Homo sapiens: one gene and its partners. The protein of the gene in region 3 interacts with the protein of the main gene of each other region in a biochemical or structural test. Each region holds a gene or a part of one and is shown on either strand. Other genes may lie near its edges. The genes, in order: HDAC3, NFE2L3, PPARG, CDC34, HDAC4, HMGA1 and LRIF1.

What was found.
Region 1: the proteins of PPARG (region 3) and HDAC3 form a complex in vitro, tested with the Homo sapiens proteins (3 studies listed by BioGRID, with this or other methods).
Region 2: the proteins of PPARG (region 3) and NFE2L3 interact in a test that uses a peptide from one of them, tested with the Homo sapiens proteins (one study listed by BioGRID).
Region 4: the proteins of PPARG (region 3) and CDC34 form a complex in vitro, tested with the Homo sapiens proteins (2 studies listed by BioGRID).
Region 5: the proteins of PPARG (region 3) and HDAC4 form a complex in vitro, tested with the Homo sapiens proteins (2 studies listed by BioGRID).
Region 6: the proteins of PPARG (region 3) and HMGA1 form a complex in vitro, tested with the Homo sapiens proteins (one study listed by BioGRID).
Region 7: the proteins of PPARG (region 3) and LRIF1 form a complex in vitro, tested with the Homo sapiens proteins (one study listed by BioGRID).

Annotation. Positions count from the first base shown.
Region 1 is NC_000005.10:141,630,350-141,633,849, reverse strand, and holds part of HDAC3 (histone deacetylase 3), read left to right. Parts: intron 1-3,500. UniProt on the Homo sapiens protein: Histone deacetylase that catalyzes the deacetylation of lysine residues on the N-terminal part of the core histones (H2A, H2B, H3 and H4), and some other non-histone substrates.
Region 2 is NC_000007.14:26,183,198-26,185,417, forward strand, and holds part of NFE2L3 (nuclear factor erythroid 2-related factor 3), read left to right. Parts: intron 1-503; coding exon 504-587; intron 588-1,335; coding exon 1,336-2,220. UniProt on the Homo sapiens protein: Activates erythroid-specific, globin gene expression.
Region 3 is NC_000003.12:12,292,070-12,295,569, forward strand, and holds part of PPARG (peroxisome proliferator-activated receptor gamma), read left to right. Parts: intron 1-3,500. UniProt on the Homo sapiens protein: Nuclear receptor that binds peroxisome proliferators such as hypolipidemic drugs and fatty acids.
Region 4 is NC_000019.10:538,260-541,759, forward strand, and holds part of CDC34 (ubiquitin-conjugating enzyme E2 R1), read left to right. Parts: intron 1-418; coding exon of another isoform or gene 419-731; exon of another isoform or gene 732-777; intron 778-3,079; coding exon 3,080-3,293; 3' UTR 3,294-3,500. UniProt on the Homo sapiens protein: E2 ubiquitin-conjugating enzyme that accepts ubiquitin from an E1 ubiquitin-activating protein, and catalyzes its covalent attachment to other proteins by an E3 ubiquitin-protein ligase complex. In vitro catalyzes 'Lys-48'-linked polyubiquitination.
Region 5 is NC_000002.12:239,111,021-239,114,520, reverse strand, and holds part of HDAC4 (histone deacetylase 4), read left to right. Parts: intron 1-2,808; coding exon 2,809-2,995; intron 2,996-3,500. UniProt on the Homo sapiens protein: Responsible for the deacetylation of lysine residues on the N-terminal part of the core histones (H2A, H2B, H3 and H4).
Region 6 is NC_000006.12:34,235,740-34,239,672, forward strand, and holds the start of HMGA1 (high mobility group protein HMG-I/HMG-Y), read left to right. Parts: upstream 1-1,133; 5' UTR 1,134-1,142; coding exon of another isoform or gene 1,143-1,224; exon of another isoform or gene 1,225-1,464; coding exon of another isoform or gene 1,465-1,578; intron 1,579-1,675; coding exon of another isoform or gene 1,676-2,641; intron 2,642-3,051; exon of another isoform or gene 3,052-3,218; intron 3,219-3,933. Other genes in the region: translation initiation factor IF-2-like, read left to right, coding at 507-517, 836-991, 1,143-1,224, 1,465-1,578, 1,676-2,641. UniProt on the Homo sapiens protein: HMG-I/Y bind preferentially to the minor groove of A+T rich regions in double-stranded DNA. It is suggested that these proteins could function in nucleosome phasing and in the 3'-end processing of mRNA transcripts.
Region 7 is NC_000001.11:110,950,423-110,953,922, forward strand, and holds part of LRIF1 (ligand-dependent nuclear receptor-interacting factor 1), read right to left. Parts: intron 2,394-3,500; coding exon 866-2,393; intron 1-865. UniProt on the Homo sapiens protein: Together with SMCHD1, involved in chromosome X inactivation in females by promoting the compaction of heterochromatin.

The DNA of each region.
Region 1 (3,500 bases), on a different chromosome or scaffold from region 3:
CTTTTTTTTTTTTTTTTTTTTTTTGAGACAGAGTCTCACTCTGTAGCCCAGGCTGGAGTGCAGTGGTGCAGTCTTGGCTCACTGCAACCTCTGCCTCCTGGGTTCAAGCGATTCTCATGCCTCAGACTCCCGAGTAGCTGGGATTACAGGCGCCTGCCACCATGCCTGGCTAATTTTTGTATGTTTAGTAGAGATGGGGTTTCACTATGTTGGTCAGGCTGGTTTTGAACTCCTGACCTCAGGTGATCCACCAGCCTCAGCCTCCAAAAGTGCTGGGATTACAGACGTGAGCCATCGCACCCAGCTGAGCAAGTGGCCACTCTTACTTCATCTATACTCCCTCATGTTAGATTGTTTTAAAGCAGATCCTAGATGTTATATCCTTTTATCCATAAATATTTTATTATGTATCTCTAAATGATACTCTTTTAAAAAAACATAGTATCATTATCAAACCTAAAAAGTTAACAGTGATTCCTTAATGTCATCAAATATGGGATCAATATTCAAATTTCTGCAGTTGTCTCATAATTATTTTGTAGCTAATTTAAATCCAGATCTAAACAAGGTCTATACAGTGCATTTGGTTGATATGTCTCTTAAGACTTTTAATTTGTAGCTTTTCTGTCACCCCCTTGAATTTATTTCTTGAAGAAACCAGGTTGTTGATCCTGTAGAATTTCTTATGATAGCTACCATTTACTGAGTGCTTACTCTGCTAGGTATTATGCCAAGGGTTGCTGGTAAATCCACTTAATTCTCATACCAATCCTTAGATGTATTATAATAGACCTTTTTCTGATGTTATATATAAGTAAATTGAGGTTTGGGAATATCTAGGTAACTTAGCCGTAGTCACATAACTGGTCATTGGAGGGGGCATGATCCAGATCCCGGGTTTTTAAACCACTAATCTGTTTTCCTGAAAGATCTTAATGACAGAAGCAGCCAGGGCTGTAGGATAGAGGCCAACTCATTAGGCTGGCATTGGCACCTTTCCAACTTTATCCCTACACCTCAGCTGCACAGGATGCCTTCCTGGAATGCCCTTAGTTCTCTATTCAACCTCTTCAAGGCCTTCTCAGCCTTCACACCATCTCCATGAAACCTTTCTTGACCACACCAGCCCATAGAGCTCTGTCTTGCACACACTGCACTGCTCATTTGGTGTTCAGTCACATGCTGTTTGGGGAGGTTTCTTGTTTTTTTGTTAGTATTCCTGCTGTTATTTCTGAGCTCACTTTCTAGCTCTGTGAATACAGGGTCAGCCCTTACGCCACACTGGGGTCCCGTAGATGCTCTTTGTGCGATTAGGGAATGCTAATTAGAATACTATCTCTGGGCTATTTATGCTGCATCAGTCTTCCTGTCAAACAAGTTACAGTTGTGCTTATCTGTATTTCCGATGAGAATCAGGAATTTTTCTTCTGTTTAATGAATTTCTGATTGGTTTCAAAGTATTCTAACATAAGTAGCCAAATTGTACTATAGGCCTTTAAATGAAAAAAATAAAAAAGTAGTCCCAAGCCGGGCGCAGTGGCTCACGCCTGTAATCCCAGCACTTTCGGAGGCCGAGGCGGGTGGACCACCTAAGGTCAGGAGTTCAAGACCAGCCTGGCCAACATGGTGAAACCCCATCTCTACTAAAAATACAAAAATTAGTCATGTGTGGTGGCACGTGCCTGTAGTCCCAGCTACTCCAGGAGGCTGAGGCAGGAGAATTGCTTGAACCCGGGAGTTGGAGGTTGCAGTGACCTGAGATTGCACCACTGCACTCCAGCCTGGGCAACAGAGTGAGACTCTGTCTTAAAAAAAAAAAAAAAAAAAAATTCCAGACCTCTCCTTTTCACCCATAAATCCCTCTGCCCAGTGACAGCCACTTTCAGCTCCTTTCCCCTATGTCTTCTGGTATTTACCTTTGGATTTCTAAATAATAATATTAATTGACTGTTATTACTAATCTGTAATCCTTAGGTAATACCTGTTATATACTAGGTACTGTTCTAAGTGCTTTACAGCCATTAGCTTATTTAATCTCAACAACCCCTATGAAGCAGGGTCTATTATTGTTTCCTTTTACCGATGAGGACACTTAAGCACAGAAAGGTTAAACAGTTTGTACAACCTCACTATCATTAGTAGGTGTTAAAGAACCTAGGTAGTCTAGCTCCAGAATCGGTGCTTGTAATCATACTCCCCTCCTGTATTGTCTCTCATTGCTATTTCTTCGTCTGTCAATTTTAGGCATTATCTGTTAAGCTTTTAGTATGGGATATGAGCATTTAGTCTTCTTACACCATCACATTGGCTTCCTTTCCCCTTTCAGCTTCATAGTAATTTAAAAATAAATCAGTATTCTGTGTTTACATTATTATAACTCTGAAAGATTCATTTACTATCAAGCCAAATAGTGTAGTGTGATTTAATCTATTTTCTTCTAAAGCTTTTTGTTTTTCCTGGAGCTGACAATTGCATTATTTTTTCATTTGCTTAGTTTTCTGGTATTAATCACTAATTCTTTCCAAGCCTTTTGAGAAACTATAAAACCCTACAATTCTTGCTTGAACCCGGGAGGCGGAGGCTGCAGTGAGCCGAGATCGCACCATTGCACCCCAGCCTGGGCGACAGAGCAAGACCCCATCTCAAAAAACAAACAAACAAAAAACCCCTACAGTTCTGTTTTTCACATGGTCAAATGTATCAGCTGCACTATTTTTTTTTTTTGAGACCTAAAACTAGGGATTGCCTAAGCCTTTCCTTTTTAAAAAGTCAGGTTTATATAGGTATAACTTGCATACAGTAAAATTAACCTTTTTTAGGTGTAAGAGTTCTGAGAGGTTTGATAGAATATATCAAGGTATAGGGCCAGCGCCGATGGCTCACACCTGTAGTCCCAACAATTTGGGAGGCCAAGGCGGGAGGATCACTTAGGCCCAGGAGTTTGAGACCAGCTTGGGCAACATAGTGAGACCCTGTCTCTACAAAAAAAAAAAAAAAAAAGGTATCAAGGTACAGGAAATTTCCACTACCCAACAAAGGTCACTCACCCTTTTGTAGTTAATAACTTCTCTGCAACCTAGATCCAGCCAACTACTGATAAGATGTCTGTCCTTGTATTTTACCTTTTCCAGAATGTTACATAAATGGAGTCATACAGTAAGTAGGCTTTTGTGTCTGGCTTCAAGCCTTTACTTTTTATAAAGAATAACAATGGTAATAATTATAGCTGACATTTATTAAAGGCTGAGCGGATACTGTATACTGTGCTACAGGCTTTTCGTGGGTTATCTCATCACTGTTTCACATATGTAGGTATACAGTTCTTTCTTTAAAATATGTGACTGAAAAATATTATTGAACATTATGCTAAAATTTGTTACACTGAGAAGACTAAGAAAAACAGAGCTCATGTTTTCTTTCAACTGATTTCCTTTTTACATTGTACTTGAGTACCTGGAAGCTGCTTGCTTCTTTCCGCAGCTAGGATACAAACTCCCTGA
Region 2 (2,220 bases), on a different chromosome or scaffold from region 3:
AAATACTGATTAGCTTTGGACTTTTAAGTATGCATGTTGAAATACTGAGTACCATAATCAGAGAAATAGGTCAGCTGCAGTGGCTCACGTCTGTAATCCCAGCACTTTGGGAGGCCTAGGTGGGTGGATCACTTGCGGTCAAAAGTTCGAGACCAACTTGGCCAACATGGTGAAACCCTGTCTCTACTAAAAATACAAAAATTAGCCAGACGTGGTGGTGCACAGCTGTAATCCCAGCTACTCCGGAGGCTAAGGCAGGAGAATCCTTTGAACCTGGGAGGCAGAGGGTGTAGTGAGCCGAGATTGCACCACTGCACTCCATTCTGGGCCAGAGTGAGATCCGTCTCAAAATATAATAAAAAGTAGAACTTCCAACCAAGGAACATAATAGCATAAAAATCCAGTGTGGAAATAATACCTGGTGATCCTTTAAAGATAAAGCCTAAAGCCCCAACCAGTTCAGTCTTTTATGTGAAAGATGCACTTTTTGTGTTTCTCTACAGAGACATCTGAATGGGACAGATACTTCTTTCTCTCTGGAAGACTTATTCCAGTTGCTTTCATCACAGCCTGAAAATTCACTGGAGGTAATTGGAACTTTGGCTTTTATCCTCGCAGGAACATATCTGCACTGACCTTTTGGTGAACAAATACAACTCCTTTACTTGGATGACACAGCAGTTTAAAGTAATGCTTATTTTTACAGAAGCACTTCAGCTTAGAATTAACCAAATATGTATAGCATTCCTCTTTCCAAATAATCCCAAAGGTATAATCAAATTTAGACTAGTCATGGAAAACAGCGTGGAGATTTCTCAAAAAACTAAAAGAATTATCAGGTATTTATCCAAAGGAAAGGAAATCAGTGTATCAAAGGGACACCTGCACCCCCATGTTTATTGCAGCAATATTCACAATAGCCTTGTAGTTTTAGCGCTTAGAGGCATTTAAACAGCCTCTCTCCTCCAGACTACTTCACTGTAGTTTATTATCCCTGACCCTCCACAATGTGATTACCAACCGCTAGGATGAGTTGCATCTTATTATAAAGTAGCAAATTACAAGATTGTAACATTAGACTTTTTAAGAAAATCCAGTCAGCTTTTATACTAATCCATCTTAATTTCTAGGTTACTCAGAATTCCAGGTATTCTGATTTGGACTCACATCTCGTATTGTATTGCCTGTATTTAACTAGGAAGTTACTGCCAACAGCATCTATCTCTATTAAATGTAGAGGAATTGACAAAAGAGGGGAAAGAAAGTTGTTAGGTAATAGAACTGCTTCAGAAATAGGGCTATTCATGTTTGAAGTGTTTCTCCTTCGTTTTTCAGGGCATCTCATTGGGAGATATTCCTCTTCCAGGCAGTATCAGTGATGGCATGAATTCTTCAGCACATTATCATGTAAACTTCAGCCAGGCTATAAGTCAGGATGTGAATCTTCATGAGGCCATCTTGCTTTGTCCCAACAATACATTTAGAAGAGATCCAACAGCAAGGACTTCACAGTCACAAGAACCATTTCTGCAGTTAAATTCTCATACCACCAATCCTGAGCAAACCCTTCCTGGAACTAATTTGACAGGATTTCTTTCACCGGTTGACAATCATATGAGGAATCTAACAAGCCAAGACCTACTGTATGACCTTGACATAAATATATTTGATGAGATAAACTTAATGTCATTGGCCACAGAAGACAACTTTGATCCAATCGATGTTTCTCAGCTTTTTGATGAACCAGATTCTGATTCTGGCCTTTCTTTAGATTCAAGTCACAATAATACCTCTGTCATCAAGTCTAATTCCTCTCACTCTGTGTGTGATGAAGGTGCTATAGGTTATTGCACTGACCATGAATCTAGTTCCCATCATGACTTAGAAGGTGCTGTAGGTGGCTACTACCCAGAACCCAGTAAGCTTTGTCACTTGGATCAAAGTGATTCTGATTTCCATGGAGATCTTACATTTCAACACGTATTTCATAACCACACTTACCACTTACAGCCAACTGCACCAGAATCTACTTCTGAACCTTTTCCGTGGCCTGGGAAGTCACAGAAGATAAGGAGTAGATACCTTGAAGACACAGATAGAAACTTGAGCCGTGATGAACAGCGTGCTAAAGCTTTGCATATCCCTTTTTCTGTAGATGAAATTGTCGGCATGCCTGTTGATTCTTTCAATAGCATGTTAAGTAGATATTATCTGACAGAC
Region 3 (3,500 bases):
ACCTCAATAACTTTGAGATTGTTAAGATTGAAGATGATGCTTCTCATGTGGTGATCAATTTATAAACTGTTTCTGGGAATATTTTATTATCATTCAATTTAAAATTGTATTTTCCATTCCCTGATGACTTTGGACAAAAATCAGCATAGTAATTATTTTTATTCCAGCTTTGCGAGTCCTGTGTAGCCCCTCTTATGTTAATATTATACATCCGATGCATCTAGAAGGCACAGATTGTGCGCTTTGATTTGATAAAGCTCTAGTCTTTGCATATCTTTATGGCACACCTTGTGAATTCTTAACGTATATTCCCCAGGAGCAAGTTCGTTTTATAATGAGGCCTAGGATCCATCAGATCAGAAGACAGTTTAGTGTCACAACTTAAAAGACTAAATAGTGACTTGTGCTTGTCATTAAAAATGGGTCTCTTTCAACAAGCACTCACCAAAAAATAGTGTTTTAGTGGCTTGAAAGGTTCAGATATCTCCTAATAACCCACCTATTTGCTAGTAGGGAGTAAGTGGAAAAACATATAATTAACTGTGCACCATCCAAATAATAAATTTTAAATTCTTCGCGTGAATTGTTGATACATATTGTTGTGAAGTGTCTCCTGCTTAAGAAAGTAAGGGACTTGGACTGAATATGCCAAAGAGGAGGCCTCTGCAAGCGGTGTCTTGGTGATGGGAAGTTACTGGTAACAGCACACGGGGTGATGGGGTGAAGAGGCTTGTGTGCGTGGGCCCCGGGGGCTGAGGATTGTTGGAGAGGACTTCTCCCACCTTCTCTGGGCCCCAAACTGCACACTGGACTGGCAAGCCACTCTGCCCACTGCAGTGTGGAGCTATAAAGCCCAAGTAGGGACTTCACTAAAAGGATGCAGAGGCGAAGGCAAAGAAAGGCTCATGCTGGTGCGTGTAGGTGGGCTGAGTGTCCCTGTCCGGGAGTGGGGAGCCGTGTTATCTTCCACTGCCTTAATCCTACAGCGTAGGCTTTCTCAGAGTCATTGCCATACCTTCAACTGTTCCAGTGGCCAGGCTGTTCTCAACTTGAAAATCTTTTGTGGGACAGTGCCATGAATTTTTTTTCCTACTGCGATTTTTTAGATATAAAGGAATTGAATCCATTAAGTGGAGATTTTAAACCCTCCAGTCAGGATTTAAACTAGATTGTGTAAGTTCAGTTCAGTTGGATTCAATATCTGTTTAGGAAGCATTTTTATTCCACTTCATTGATTTTAGAAAATAAATTCATTGCTTGGTTTTAACTATGTCACTATTAAAAAAAAACCACTTTAATTTGTGGACTCATCTGGGAGGATTATGTGTGGATATGACATATTGAGTCAGATTATCTGACCTTCTGAGAAGAGTTCAGATTAGCAAAAACGTGGGGTGAGAAGTCCTTCGCAGTTTGCCACAGGTAAGGAGAAGGTAGATATGAGGGAGGTAGAGAAATAGGGAAATACCCTGAGTAGGAATGTACCAGGTCTGTATATGCTCAACTCCCACAGTCAGCAGGTTGCATGATTACTGTGTATAGTCTTAAAATATAAGGTTGATTTCTAAGAATTTACCCTGCTTCTTGGTGACATTGTAGGACATCTCAGTTTGCCACTTAGCACTGTTATTCTTTCTGGCTCTATACTAAAGGAGATAATTTGGGCAAGGGAATGGAAAGAGGTTACTTTTTCATCCTGTATGTTTAAGGAATAAATTTTCCTTCATATCGAGGGCAGTGGAGAAATATAACTGTCAAACTGTTCGAGTGCAATGATGAAGTTCCGGAAGGAACTTCCTAACCTTGACCACACCCCTCTGGCTGTCATACACCTCTTAAAATGTCTTTGAATTTGAATGTCTTTGAATTGAAATTTAAAATGTCTTTGAATTTGAAAGCTTTGGGTCTACTTTTAAAATGCCAAAGTTCCTGGCAGGGTTAGTTCACTAAACCACTATCAGCAAAAATGTGAAAGGCTAGTTGCTTGTTTCCTTGCTACCTGAAAACAAGGCCTTTAAGGAGTAGAAAACAGATTTGGAGTTTGAAAGAGGGGGTTAGGAGAGGGAAAAATAAAGTTAATGCATGTCCCAGTTTCCTCATAAGCCAGAAACTTTGAAACAAAATAGGAAAATAACCATTTGGAATAGCAGTGATAGGAAAAGATATATTTACCCATCATTTTTTTTCTCTTAGTCAAGACAAGTCGCAGATCTTCCTTGAACCATTTTTGACCTCAAAACAGTTATTCTGAAACATCAATTAAACTAAGAAATGTAATCACAGTTCAAGTTATGAGCTAGTATTATCTTAATGTAATTAAATATCTGAATATTATCACTTCATTATATCTTGTATTTCCTCTGTGATGTTAGACAAATTATGTGGTCTCTTCATGAGTCAACTCTTCCAGGCTTTAAAAGTAGCTTCCTAATAGATTGAAATGAGAGGAACTTTTCAATCACTTCAGAAAATGATGTGCCAAGGTAGTATAAATAATGCTTAATCCTTTGGCAGATCCACAGATCATAAAATATCATACATGCGGCCAGTCGCAGTGGCTCACGCCTGTAATCCCAGCACTTTGGGAGACAGAGGCAGAAGGATCACCTGAGGTCAGGAGTTTGAGACCAACCTAACCAACATGGAGAAACCCCACCTCTACTAAAAATACAAATTAGCTCGGCATGGTGGCACGTGCCTTTAATCCCAGCTACTCAGGTGGCTGAGGCAGGAGAATCGGTTGAACCCGGGAGGCAGAGGTTGCAGTGAGCCGAGATCACGCTATTGCACTCCAGCCTGGGCAACAAGAGTGAAACTCTGTCTCGAAATAATAATAATTATTATTATACATACTTAATTTTATTTTTGCTGAAAATAGTATGGCAAGCCAGTGCATCTCTGTTAGAAATAGAAACTTAGTAGCCACCTCAAAAGCAAGGTCATAATTCTGTGAATCAGCTAATAGGTGGTATTTAGCAGTTAGGTATGGGCTACCCTCGTGCCTCATGACTAATCACATTGCTTACTCGTCATGCATTTTTTACAAAGTCTTGCTAAAGTCTGTGAATCTAAAACAGAGAATCTCAAAGTGTTCCTTACTGAATGTTATCCTTTCCGTCAGTTGATAATTACCTGTGTAAACAAGCTTTTGACTGCATCTAGAAAAGCACCTATATAAATTCTTCTGTTTTATATGGTGGATAAAGTTTATAAAGGAGAACAAACATAAGAATGATGTCAATATAAATGAAGTAGAAACTTCAAAAATCATTTGCATATGTCAAGTATAATCCAGAAGAGTGAAGAAAATACCCAGGCATTTGGCAATATAGGATTACTACATGTTTTCCTAAAGAATTTGGAACTGATTAGAAACATCCTGATTTTATTTAAAAGCAATATAATGTATTTTTACAGTTTGTTTTCAAGAAGGTTCAAAAAAAAATTTTTTTTTTTTTTTTGAGATGGAGTTTCGCTCTTGTTGCCCAGGTTGGAGTGCA
Region 4 (3,500 bases), on a different chromosome or scaffold from region 3:
GAGCTCTGGGTACAGCTGTGCAGTCGCCTACCGGCGCCTTCTGTACCTGCAGTCCACTTAGCTTGCGTGGCTGTGTGTGGTGACCCACGGCTCTCCCTCTCCTCCCATCGCCCTCATGCCCCAGAGCTGAGCCCCACAGCCCCTTCTCTTGGGTGCCTGTGTTCACATGAATGTGTAAACACGTGCGTGTCTGTGTACAAAGACAAGGCTTTCTTTACGGGTTGACGGCCTTAATGGTTCCTGCTCTTCCTGTTACATAGAGGCCCTTCCTATCCATTTTTTTTTTTTCTCAGAGTGATATTGCATAGATTTCCTCACAGAGGCCTCACCTATTTTTGTTGGTATTTTGTATAAACAGAATCTTAAAAACAACTTTTAAAATATTGCACACATAATGCATGTGTCTTCCTCGCCCCAGGACCCAGGAGCATCCAGGGCACCTTCCATCCTGCACTCGCTGGTACCTGGTGTCGTGGGGTCATCTCGGGGCAGCATCCTGGTGCTGGGCGGTCTCGGCTCTGAGCAGCCATGGTGGGCGGGCCCCGTGCGGCCTCCTGGGAAGTGGCCTGCAAGCACCTGCTGGCCTCTGGAGGTCACAGGGTAGCTGCCCTGGCCGTCCCTCTGGTGCAGATGTCCTCGGTGGCCCCGGTCCGGTCGTGTCACCTGGCCCAGGTGGCTGGCTCCTTGGCCCGGTTCTTCCCGGCCACCTCCCTGAGGCACCACCTCCTTGAGATCCCAGCACAGAAATAAAAGCCACACTATTTTTATCCCTCAAAACTCCCTGTGGGCCAACACACATGTGCCATGTGGACTCTGCTGTGGTCGCCGTTTCTGCCTGTTTTTTCATCTGTGTGCGTGTTGGCCTCGTGGCAGCCCAAGTCCCGCTGAGCTGTGTCGGGCAGGCTGCCGTGGAGCCCGGCTTGGTCAGGGATGTTGGTCTTGCTGAACAGGACCTCCAGACCGTCCTCCAGCTCATGCTGGCGGTGTGCCGGCGGCACCTCCACGGTGCAGGTCAGTTCCCACCCTGGCCCTCCCCTGCGTCTCCCCACAGCCGCCACCTCTGCGGTGCCGTCCCCGGGGCACCGTCACCCCCCCAGCCCGTCCACCCTGGCCCTCCCCTGCGTCTCCCCACTGCTGCCACCCGTGCAGTGCCGTCCCCGGGGCACTGTCAGTCACCCCCCCAGCCCATCGGAGAGCTTGGAAAGCAAAGCTTGGCGTCCGCTGGGTCCCGCCACCCAGGGACGTCCCTGAGGCCAGACGCCTGCCCTCCACGCGTCATGCATCCCCATAAAAAGCACTGGGCTTGTGGGCTGGGCTTGGGGCTGTCTGTCTGCTCCCTGGTGCCCTCCCATGCGGGCACTGTGGGACCCGCACACCCTGGTAGCAGCCAGCCCCAGAGCCCAGAGCCGTGCCTGGTCGGTGATAGGGGCTCGAGCCCATTGCCTGCGGCTGCAGCCTCGTTCCTGTTTTCTGTCAAATGGGGTCAGCGTGCCGCCTGGCCCTGCTGTGCCACCCCCGGAAGCCCCTTTGCTTCCAGTCCTGGGGGGACATTCTTGACGCGTGTCCTGGAGGTGGAGCCGGGGGCAGGTTCCTCGTAGGTCCTGGTGTGCGCGGTGCAGCCCCTCATAGGGCCGGGTGTACACGGTGCCCTCCAGGAAGTTTGAGCTAACTTGTCCTCCCTTCCTGCCAGAGGCTGGGATGGCCAGGCCCCCCAGGTTTAGAATCCGGAGGCCGGGGTGGCCAGGCCCCCAGGTTTAGAATCCGGAGGCCGGGGTGGCCAGGCCCCCCACGTTTAGAATCCGGAGGCCGGGGTGGCCAGGCCCCCCAGGTTTAGAATCCGGAGGCCGGGGTGGCCAGGCCCCCCACGTTTAGAATCCGGAGGCCGGGGTGGCCAGGCCCCCCGGGTTTAGAATCCGGAGGCCGGGGTGGCCAGGCCCCCCGGGTTTAGAATCCGGAGGCCGGGGTGGCCAGGCCCCCCGGGTTTAGAATCCGGAGGCCGGGGTGGCCAGGCCCCCCGGTTTAGAATCCGGAGGCCGGGGTGGCCAGGCCCCCCGGGTTTAGAATCCGGAGGCCGGGGTGGCCAGGCCCCCCGGGTTTAGAATCCGGAGGCCGGGGTGGCCAGGCCCCCCGGGTTTAGAATCCGGAGGCCGGGGTGGCCAGGCCCCCCGGGTTTAGAATCCGGAGGCCGGGGTGGCCAGGCCCCCCGGGTTTAGAATCCGGAGGCCGGGGTGGCCAGGCCCCCCGGGTTTAGAATCCGGAGGCCGGGGTGGCCAGGCCCCCCGGGTTTAGAATCCGGAGGCCGGGGTGGCCAGGCCCCCCGGGTTTAGAATCCGGAGGCCGGGGTGGCCAGGCCCCCCGGGTTTAGAATCCGGAGGCCGGGGTGGCCAGGCCCCCCGGGTTTAGAATCCGGAGGCCGGGGTGGCCAGGCCCCCCACGTTTAGAATCCGGAGGCCGGGGTGGCCAGGCCCCCGGGTTTAGAATCCGGAGGCTGGGATGGCCAGGCCCCCGGGTTTAGAATCCAGAGGCTGGGATGGCCAGGCCCCCCGGTTTAGAATCCGGAGGCCGGGGTGGCCAGGCCCCCGGGTTTAGAATCCTGCTGAGGCCACGGAGAGGCTCAGGCCGTTTTTGCGTTTCCCATCTCACCTGTGCTGGTTCCCGTCTCCAGGGATGGTCCTGCCTCCTGTCCTTGGGCCCTCCCAGCTGCTTCCTTTGCTCCTGCGCTGAGGAAGGCTTTTGCCCCCCAGTGGGGCAGCATGGGCCCTCCCTGTTGCCGGCATCGTTATTTTCTCCCAGCTCCTGATGGGTCCCTTGGGTTGTGCTTCGGGGCGGGGCAGGCGGGTGTGACTGCACTGCGCCCGTCCAGCCTCCCACCCGCACCTCCTGCCCTTCCCGAGCCCCCTCCTCTGTCATTTCTCCCCCTGGAGTTCCTCACGCACAGGGCTTTGTCCTAAGTGGTCGCCACACGCCGTTTTAAGAGAAACCTGAGCGTTGGGGTGAGCGTCGGACCTGGGGGAGGGGGGCCGGGCAGGGGCCGAGTCCAGGCACGTGGGTGGCGCCCTCACCCACCCTGTCCCCCCAGGAAGCAGGTCCTGGGGACCAAGGTGGACGCGGAGCGTGACGGCGTGAAGGTGCCCACCACGCTGGCCGAGTACTGCGTGAAGACCAAGGCGCCGGCGCCCGACGAGGGCTCAGACCTCTTCTACGACGACTACTACGAGGACGGCGAGGTGGAGGAGGAGGCCGACAGCTGCTTCGGGGACGATGAGGATGACTCTGGCACGGAGGAGTCCTGACACCACCAGAATAAACTTGCCGAGTTTACCTCACTAGGGCCGGACCCGTGGCTCCTTAGACGACAGACTACCTCACGGAGGTTTTGTGCTGGTCCCCGTCTCCTCTGGTTGTTTCGTTTTGGCTTTTTCTCCCTCCCCATGTCTGTTCTGGGTTTTCACGTGCTTCAGAGAAGAGGGGCTGCCCCACCGCCACTCACGTCACTCGGG
Region 5 (3,500 bases), on a different chromosome or scaffold from region 3:
AGAAGGCCAGTGAATGACTGGTTAATTTCCATTGAAACATTAAACTTCTGAGTCAGCAGAAATACCTAAGGCATTTGGGCAGCCAGCTGGAGCCCCGTATCTGCAGCTAGAGTGCCCTCAGGAAAGTGGCTTCCTCCCTGTAGGCAGGAAGCCAGTCCGAGGAACCACAGCTCTGTAGGATTTGATTCTATCCTCCAGCAGCAGAGCTGCTGCCTCGGCTGCAGGAGCCACTGGCTCGTTCCCTCCCTTCTCTCTGGACTCCATGCCGGCCGTGCCGTTGAGCACCTCCCCAGCTTCCTGACTGCCAGCTGTGTGGCCAGACGCTGCATCTCCACCCCCAGCAGCACCTTGGAAGCCAGGAGCAGGACGCCCTGCAGTAAACTGTTCCCCTTAATTCTCAGCTACAGTTCTTAAATGCTTGCCACTGAATGAATCAGTGTGGGGCCTTGTACCTGGAGCACCTAGACCCAAGCCTGCCACACACGGGATCAGTGCTCAGTGGTCTCCAGAGGCTTCTGGGTCAGGAGCCCTTCTCCACCGAGCTTCCCCCAGTGGCTGGCATTGGGTGCTATTTCTCCTTCTTGTTCAGAGGGGGGCCTGTCTCTAATTTCTGGGCCTTCTTAATTAGCACCCCGGGCACTAAACACTACAAAGCCCAGCAGAACTAACGCTTGGCAAAGACAGAGAGAGAAAGCCCCGGGCCTCTCTGGCACACACACGGTGCTTCATGGTGAACACTCGTCCACAGGTCCTGTCCGACAGGCCCAGGGTGGGGGCCTCTTCCTGTGGTCGGGCCTTGTAAGTTGATGAAGATCTGAAATTCAGTGTGCTATTATTAGGCTGATAAGAAATGGGAAACTATTTACATTAATAATTTTTAGGGCTAGTTTCTCATAGATCAGCCTTTACTTTGAGAAAAAGAGGCTTGTTATATTCCAAGCATGAGATGATTATTAGAAACACTTATTTTCTGTTCTCTCTGGAGAGTAATAGGCAGAACCCCTTATCAGGGAAACGTCGTAGTACACGGAGCAATTTGCCGAGGTAAACATAAGGCGGGGCACCTCCAGCCCGCGTCGGGGAGGATTGCTTATTAACCACTTAACCGCGTGGGGCCCACGGCAATCCCAGCTGAATTTGGTCAGCAGCAGACTGGGGGCCTGTGGGTGCTGGCTCCTGCTCCAGCTCCTGCTGCAGCTCCTCCCACTGTCTCAGGGCTTCCTTCTTCTCTGCTCCCTCCTGGCTCTGATTCCTTTTGTGTGTGTGTGTGTGAGACAGAGTCTCACTCTGTTGCCCAGGCTAGAGTGCAGTGGTGCCATCTCAGCTCACTACAGCCTCCGCCTCCTGGGCTCAAGCAATTATTCTGCCTCAGCCTCCCAAGTAGCTGGGATTACAGGCACCCACCATCACGCCTGGCTAATTTTTTGTTTGTTTGTTTGTTTTGTTTGTTTGTTTTTTTGGAGAGATGGGGTTTCACCATTTTGGCCAGGCTGGTCTCGAACTCCTTACCTCAGGTGATCCACCCGCCTCAGCCTCCCCAAGTGCTGGGATTACAGGCATGAGCCACCACGCCCAGCCTGATTCCTAAAGGCAGGACAGATCGGAGCCTGGCCGGGTAGCTCTGGTTTCCCCCAGTGCTGGCAGCACAGGGCTGGGCTCTGCCTTCATACAGGAGCTGGGATGTAGGTACCTGGTTTTCCATGTTCACAGGATTTGTTCATCAAAACTAAGACAGGATTGGCGCAGAGCTCCCAGCAAGGAGGCGCCCGGCTTTCTTTGTGCCTCGGCCTGGGTGGCAGGTTGCTGTGCTCTCCCTCAGCTGCTGTCTGGGGAGAGGCTTGGCAGCTGTGACCTCATCTCTGCCCTGCTCCCTCCACTCCACTCTGCCTCGTATGGGGGTTTGCACCTCAGCCTGTTCCCAGAATCCCTCAGGGTGTCCCAGGCCCCTGGCTGAGTGCCCCCCCCACACACAGAGCCCAGCCCAGCTCCATCTCATCAGAGAGGCACATCCCCACCAGCAGGCCTGCTCTAGGCCCCAAAGGTCCTGGGTGCCCAGAAGCTGATGGGCTGTTACTGCTTTTAGCCTGCACGAGGGTGTGTGGGATGTGAGACCAGGGAGGGGAGCGGCTGCAGATGAAGCCCAGTTGGCACTTTCAAGTCTGAGAGCCGATGGTGCTTTCTCGCCCAAGTTTGGCATGCAGATTCAATGCTGTTGGTCAGAACTAAGACCCACAAACCCAACAAGGGGGTTGGGCTTCGTGCCCACTCACCGTATGTGTGTGGTATGGCAGAGTGGACGCTGTGGTCCCCACATCTACATGGCCTTCGCATATCCCCCAGTGAAACCAGCGAGGGCCAGGCTGCCGCCCCAGCAAGAGCTTCTCTCCACACCTGCCAGGCCCTACTCCCCTGCACCTGCTCCAGGCTGCTCCTGGCTCAGCACCTCCTCAGAGAAGCCCTCCTTGATACCCCATACTGGGCCAGGCCTCCCTGGGACCCCCTGACTCAACCTGTGTTATCCTGTTAACGTAACCCATGGCAGGATCCCACGTGGACAGCCTGCCTTCCCTAGAGAGACCGTCCTGGGAGGCAGAGCCTGTGCTGGCCTCGTTCTTGGCTCTGGGCCCACTCAGGCTTCAGGGCACTCACAGGGAAGGCCTCTCCACGCAGCTGGCCTCCCGGCATCCTTGTGGCCCATGTATGGCCTGTGCGTGGACGGGAGACTTGCAAGAGAGGGCAACCCCTAGCCCTGCAGCCCAGGGGCGGGAGACATCCGCAACCGCCAACACGGCCGTTTCTTCCCCGCAGCAAGCCCTCCTGCTGGAGCAGCAGCGGATCCACCAGCTGAGGAACTACCAGGCGTCCATGGAGGCCGCCGGCATCCCCGTGTCCTTCGGCGGCCACAGGCCTCTGTCCCGGGCGCAGTCCTCACCCGCGTCTGCCACCTTCCCCGTGTCTGTGCAGGAGCCCCCCACCAAGCCGAGGTTCACGACAGGTAACACGTGGCCTTTGTGCAGCCTGAGGGTGCAACGCGGGCCACAGTGGGCACAGCGCGGGGGGCTCTTCCCGGCCCAGCTCTGCAGAGGCTGAGGAGGGGCTGGGCAGGCACGAGGGCCACGCTGGATGGTGGGGACCACACAGGTCTGTCACAGAGGCCCTCTCCCCGCCCTACACCCCACACCTTCAGTTCTGTCATGCTGGGGACCTGTCACGGGCTCACTTGCCCACTTTCCTGTCCCAGAGACCCATGGTCTCCTCCAAGAACAGTCCACAGCCCATGCCCGTGGGGCCATGAGAACCTACAGCTTCTGGTCCGGCTCAGGAATCATGAGCCCACGCTTCTCCGCTTACTCCCTCACACTTCGCCCACGTCCACAGCGTTGACGCTGAGGCTCCAGTGACAGGGCTGTGAATGGCTGGCGGGGGGCTGTGATTACACGAGAGCAGAGCCCGGGACCCCTGGGACACGCTGTGGGAGCCACACGTCCTCTGTCTGTGCC
Region 6 (3,933 bases), on a different chromosome or scaffold from region 3:
CTGACCGGGGAGGAAGAAGGGGAGCAGAGAAAAACATGAGTCACAGCCGTGTGTCACTGGAGCGCATTTCAATTCCCTGCATCACAGGAGGTGTGGAAGGCCGCCTCGGGGACCGGGCGCGGGAGGTGCGCCCGAGAAGGCCCCGGGCCGGCCTGCAGGGCGCGCCGCTCCGCCTGCGCCCTTTCCTCCCCCACCGCCCTCCCCGCCATCTTCCCCTTTGGCTTCCTTCTCGCTCGGTGCAACAAGTCTTTGTTAAGCCGGGCGCCGGGCGGGCCAGGCGTGGCGGAGATGGCCTGCGTGCTCGGCCCCTGCCCTCAAAGCGCTTCCAGGCGACCTCTGGCCCACCTTTTATTTTTATTTACAGTCCCAACGGAAGGGCCCAGGTCCCCAAGTGGGCCTGCGTATCTCCAGAACACCATCTAAGTCACCTCAAGGTATGAAGCCTCCCTTGGGTGTACCTGCCAACGAGCCAATCGTTGGTTTCGCTGGAAGGCTCCACCTTGATCATGGCTCGCTGGTGGCCATTAATAAAACACTTTGGATTTCACAAGTTTCACGTTTGAATTTCACAAGACTTGTATCTCACCAATCAGCCACACGCGGGTTGACACTGAAAGGCACATGCTGACACCTGTCCGCCCAGGGGAAATCTACCATCTCTCTATTTTAGTTAGGGGGCGGCGTGTAGGCCGCGGAATTCTCTAACGAGCGCGTTTCTCTTCACCCCCTGGGCCCGCGTGGACCCCCGTCCACCCCCACACGCCCTGGGGGGGGGGCCGGGCCCACACGCCCTGGAAGCCCCTAGAGGTGACTCTCCCTGGGACCCCTGTACCAGGGAGGAAGGATACCGCCACCCGTCACCACCCCCCGCCAGAAGCTCCTTCGTGACTCCTCTGCGCGTGCCTTCCCACACCTCCTCCGTCCGGGACTGCGAGGAGTGGGCGGTCGACTCGAGTTCGCAGCCCAGGCCTCCCACACGCCCCTCCCTGCCGTCAGCACCCACCCGCGCGGCAGCGGCGGCGGCGGCTGGCGGGCGGCCGCCCTTTTAAATCCCCGGGCTCATTTGCATGGCCCCGCCCCCTGAGTGACACGGCTGGCGCGGGCGGGCCCGTCCCCCCTGCCCCTGGGTCGCTCTTTTTAAGCTCCCCTGAGCCGGTGCTGCGCTCCTCTAATTGGGACTCCGAGCCGGGGCTATTTCTGGCGCTGGCGCGGCTCCAAGAAGGCGTGAGTTCGCGGCCGCTCCGGTGGCTTCTTTTTTTTATATCTATAATTTAATTAAATTATTTATTTATTGAGGCCGCGCACGGGCCGTGCCCAGCTTCCTGCCCCTCGCCATCCTTCGGGGGAGGGGGAATATTTTTGTCCCCCCGCCTGGCTGTGACACATAAATACCCCGCGGGGGCCTGGGCGGCGAGCACGCGGCGGCGGCGGTCTCTGAGCGCCTCTGCTCTCTCCCGGTTTCAGATCCGCATTTGCTACCAGCGGCGGCCGCGGCGGAGCCAGGCCGGTCCTCAGCGCCCAGCACCGCCGCTCCCGGCAACCCGGAGCGCGCACCGCAGGCCGGCGGCCGAGCTCGCGGTGAGTCGTCCCCGGGGCCCGCGGCGGCGGCGGCGGAGGGGGGCGCCCGCGCCCCCGCCCGCACGTCGCCCCTCCTGCGAGCCGCCCGGGGCTGCAGCGCGCGCCGCCGGCTTTATTCCCAGGCCGGGGCGGCGCGAGCCGGCGGCGGGGGAGGGCCGCGCGGCGCGGGGGCGGGCGGCGGGGCCCGGCGGCGCGGGGAGGACGCCCGCACCCCTTCCCCCGCGCCGCGGGCGCCCTGCGGGGGGCGGGGACCCGGGAAAGGCGCGCGGTGGGGGAGGGGGCGCGCAGCTGCGGCGAGCGCGAGTTGTGCACCCGGCGGAGCCCGGAGGAGCCCGGCGCACCTCGCGCGGCGGCCGCTCCCGCTGGAGCCGGAGCCCGAGCCCGAGCCCGGGCCCGGGTGAGGGGCGGGGAGAGACACGGGCTGCGGCGCGGCAGGAGAGTGGGGGGTCGGGCGCCCCCCGCAGCTCAGGGAAGTTCTGGAAGTGAGGGAGATGGGGAGGAACCCCCAAATTCGGCCCTACGCCCTCTCGGCCTTTCTCTCGCGCCCCCTCCGCAGATGAGGCCGGAGCGCGGGCCTGGGTTTGGGGCTTCACCCCGACCCCACCTCTGGCCTGGCCCGCGCCTCTTCAGCCCCAGGGGCCGGGCCTGCCCTCCGCCCCCACAAACTGGTTTCGCTGCTTTGCTGGGCTCTGTTGGAACTAGTCCCTTTGACTCCCCGTTTCTATTTTATTTTCTTCTGGGGCTTTATTTTGCGGGGAGGGGACGGAGGGAGGGGGCTTTCTTCCTCTCCCCCGCGCCCGCGCGCGCCAGGTTTCCTGCCCCAAGGCGGGCTTGGGTGCCCCCTCTGGCAGGAAGTGGGGCCGGGTGCACCCGCGTGGCGGTGCATGCGGTCGGGGTGCGCTGCTTTCCCGCGCCTGCAGGAGCGGCCTGCGCCCCTCCCCCCGCGCGCCCTGGCCCCGGGTCCCGCCGGCCGGCCTGCAACGGCCGGGCGCAGACACTTGCAGAGTCACCCTCGGGCCGGGTCTGGAGCCTGATGCCTCGGGGGTTTAGCCCTAGCCGCTAGGCGGGTAGGCAAAGTGTCGGGTTGAAAGGGTCTCCGGGAACCTACTTCTTCCTGCTCGCCAACTTGCTGTGTGACCTTAGGCAACTCAAGGCTTCTCTGGGCTACTTTTTTACGGGGGACGGGGAAGAAAACAAGGGAACCCCCAAGATAATTTCCTAGGGCCTTTCCTGCAGAGTCCTTAAGTATTTGAGGAGCACAGTTTGCATGCACAGTGTATGGAGGAGACAGGCTTGAGGCCCAAGCGGGCTTATTACAAAGTGAGGGATTGGGGTTAGGCCCTAAATGTAGTTCCTCCAAGACAGGCCTCTGATGTTCAGAAACAGGTGGAAAAGACGAACGTTTCTTGGCCTCACTGGAAAGGGCCTCGGGCCTTCATTTAGTTCGTGGGGGGTTGGCTGAGGGGATTAAAGGGTCCCCAGCAGCAAGAGGTGGGGGGAGGCACCAGATGGTATGAGAGCTTCCAGGGAGACCCGCCAAGATCTCCAGGCAGGCCGGGCCAGGCTCTCTGGGATTCCGGACTGGCTTCGCCCAACTGGAACCCCCTCGATGAGGGGGCCCCAGGCAGACCTTATATGAGGTCAGCACTCGTTTAGTTGATTAATTTTGATGTTTAGTTTGAAGGGGGACCTGTGGTGTAATATAAGATTCTAATCACTGCCTGTAATTGCAGAGCAGGCCAAGCCACTAATGACGGAGCAGGATAAATCACCAACCACCTTGTTTAAAAGGGTCTCCAAGTCTGAAACATTATAAGATAGAATAATTACCAAAGTCCTGCTGTCTGGAGGGTCTCTTGATGCTTGAAAATGGAGGTCCTGGGCCCTCTAGAAATCACAAGTTTGCAAAAATGTTTTTTTCCTCTCATTGGGGTAAAAACTCTTTTTCTTCTTTTTTTTTTTTCTTTTAAATTAGACATGGGAGTCCCACCGTATTGTCCAGGCTGGTCTCGAACTCCTGACCTCAAGCAGTCCTCCTGCTTTGGCATCCCAAAGTGCTGGGATTACAGGCATGAGTCACCTCACCTGGCCCATAAATCATTTTCAAATGGTCTAGTTCTTATTTTGGTTAGAGTGAAGATTTCTTTCTATTATTTTAAGTTTTTCTAAACTATTACCTAGTTTGATCCTTGAAGCAGTCAGGAGGTAGTTCAGGCAGGTACCTTATAATTACCTTGATCTTACAGATTGAGAGGGGTTCAGAAGTGGAGCCGCTTGTCCCACCCCTTACCATGGCAGGCAGGGATTGGTTACTGGAAAAATGTGTAGCCTAGGCCTCCGGCGTCTCATCCATCT
Region 7 (3,500 bases), on a different chromosome or scaffold from region 3:
GACATTATTTAGAAATTGTAGTCTTCTGGAAAAGTCACACATGCCTTTAATCGATCTTGTATTGAACAATCAGAATTTACCTCCTTACATCTCTGGAGTTCAATGAATTCTGTACTGAAGGGGAGAAATGCTGACATTATTGAGTAGACCTCTAAGTAAGCAAGGAAAAGATGGGTACAAATATCTAGTAAGCACACAGACAGACAAACCTTAAGTCGAACATAAAGGTAACTATGTGGGCATGTTGGGTAACTGGCTGAGGAGTCACAAAGAGCTAATAAAAAGGAAAATGAAATTTGTCTACCAAAAAAAAAATCAACCCATCAAAGATGCTGATAAAATCTTATTTCCACAAATTACTGAAAGGTATTGATTAGCCCTGTCTCACCTTTTCCATGGTATACCACCACCACCACCACAAAAAAACCCCACAAAACCCCAAAACCAACTCTTTTACATGCATATTGATCTCCTCATATACTAAAAAGGCTATTATATATGAACATACATATATACATGTATGTATATACATATACTCACATATTTTTACTAAGCTTTGAATTCACATTATCCTTCCCCAACTCTTCTAAACCTTTTTGCTCTGTGAATTTTTTGTTTTAAAGATTTGGCATGCCAAGTGATTCAAGAGAAAGACTGTACTCCTTTGTACAAGATTGTACCCAACTGTACTCCTCCTCAAATTTGCTCAGATGGAAGTTTTGACTTAAATACTCATATGTGTATAGTCTGTGTGTGATGGGGTTGGCAGTGGGGGAAAGAGGTATCATAGATAACTTTGAGAATTAAGAAAACAAACTTTTCTATATAGATATATAAAAAGAGCACCCTGACATGGGAAAATTACCTTTGGTTCTTGGTCTCTGAAAACACACTGTTGTGAAGTAACAGTTGTTGCATCAACAGAGGAACTTATTTTCTCTATGCTCTGGAGGACACTTCCTTTTCTAGCATAAATGACGGCTGTTACTTTTCTGGGGGCATTGTGTCCTGTACTAAATCCAACTGGAAAGATTGGATTTGTGAATAAAGTCTTACTCTGTTTTAAGTAGTTACTGGATTGGTTCATATGTGGATTTGTGGTAGAAGGAGATGGTTTCTCCACTTTATTCTTCTCTGCCCTTAGATTGGCCATGGAAGCAAGCTGGGTATTGGAAAGTGATTTTGTCTCCATCTGGGAAGATTTACTTTTAGCCAAAACAATATTTACAACCTCTCTGGATATTTCTGTGACTGGACTTGAACTCACTGTCTGTAACGTGTCTTTTCTTACTGGAGTATCAGGAGAAACAGAATTCTGTTGGTCAATTTGTGATGGCAGAACATCTGTCCCCTTTTTAGCCAACAGATAGACTTTCCCATTAAACATAACCAAAGCATTATCTTTAATAGGCATATTTTTGGATCGCGTCCCACTAGGATCGATGGTACTCAATGGTGGCATATTTATAGTATTATCTCCCAAATTTTTCCTATCTACAAAAGTTTTTAAAATCTTTGAAGCCACATTATTTGAAGACTTAACAGGAACAAGAGATGGCGTAAAAGGCTGTAGATTATCTTGGAAAATCCATTTCACTGGAGCAGCTTGAGAATGCTGACCACCTTTCAATTGTGTCTCTGTAGCAACATTCTTTGGAATTTGTGTGGTATTTAGTATTACTGGCTTTGCTATTTCTGTAACAGGTTTTGGGTAAATGTTTTGAAAGTTCTTGGTAACTACATTTTTCACTGTATTTACAGGAGATACATAAATAACGGTTGGCATTTGGGAGGCCTCAACCATTCCTGAGGTACTGGTGGTGGCAGTTGCAAGTATCTTTTGCTGCACTGAAGGAGGCAATGATGACGCTGGTACAGATTTCACTTCAGCATGGGCTGGAATCTGTAAATGATGCCCAGAAGGCAAAACTGGAGACTTCACAGTCACTGGAAGACTCTGGGTATTAACTACAATAAAAGATGAGTCTTTTTGTGTTGAGGGAGGAACAGCAAATGTTTGCATGGTGAGTCCATCAATTTTCACACCATGACTCTGAACTTTAGAAACTGATGAAGAAAAATTTCCAGTTCCCACAGAAGTAACTCTACCTTTTTCTGATGTATCTACTGTTCTTGTAAGAAAATAGTTTGAAGAACTGGCTGGCTGAAAAATGGGCAATTGAACTGATGCACTTGTGGAAGAGCTGGAAATCTGAGTCTGAAAAGTAACTTGAACTGGTTTTCCTGTATTCCCTTTCAAAGCATCAGACATGACTGAAGATTGAACTAGTGGTATAAGATTTCCAGAAGACTTAGGAATTGGAAGTAATTGCAGAAGATTTTTTCCATCCGAGCCAATCGTCTGAACTACTTGGTACATGCAGCCTGAAACACTTAAAAGAACATTGAGTAAATAAATACAACATACTACATGGTATATACATTTTATTTAAAAATAAATATTTGTAAATATTTGTAAATATTAAAATAAAGTATATAATTTTCCATTTTGAGTTTTTAAAGTGAAAGACTGCAAAACAAATATTTTGAAGTAGAAGAGATAATGATATAGTCAACTGCTTATATGATTAGGCAATGGGTATGAGATAATAACATTTATTCCTAAGACTAAAAGTAGACATTTCTAAGGTTTTGCCCTATATAAAATTATACTACTAAAGTAAGCTCCTCTTAAAATATTAGCATCCTCCCTTCCCCCTTTCCCTGAATTCCTTCCTCTTGTCCTCCTCCTCTACTCTAACTGAAGATTCTCATTCCCTCTCCCCTTACTCTTATTCCATTTCTCTCTTTTCCCCCTCAATCTGTTCTGTCTTCTTCCTTCAATAACTCACAAGTTCTGCCAGCCATTCTTCTTTTGCCTAAGCTATCTCTCATGGTGTTACCTTAGTTTGCCACATTTTTGTGCTATAGATTTCACTGAACTGTTTACATAGGAATCATTTTCTTCTGATTACTGTTTCAGCACATTTGAGGTTTAGTGCTACATAGTCTCTGGTATAGCAATTATTTATATTAGTCAATTGTCAATCACCTATCAACCCATACATATAATACCACTGCAATTTCAGCTGAATGGTTTTCAATCAATGTGGAACAGACTGGAAATCAATTTTTTTTAACTGAATCAATTCTGACCCCCATGCCTTGAATTATTTCTTAGTATAGACTGTCTAATCTTAAGAAAAATCAATATATACTAATCTCTGTTTGCATAATTAGTTATTTGGAGATTACTTGAATGTAAATACCTTACCTTATTTATATCTAAAACATTTTTCAGCTCCTGGGAAATATTGAGCTTTCATGTCACACATACTATCACTCTACCTAGGTACGCCTCACCCAACTCAACTCTTCACATAGCTCAAGTCTTGGCATAAATGATATTTCTCAAGAGATACATTTTCTGACCACTTTATCCTTGTCTTTCCTTCATAATTAATCCATAACATTATGCTTGTTAGCTTCCTTCATGGTAT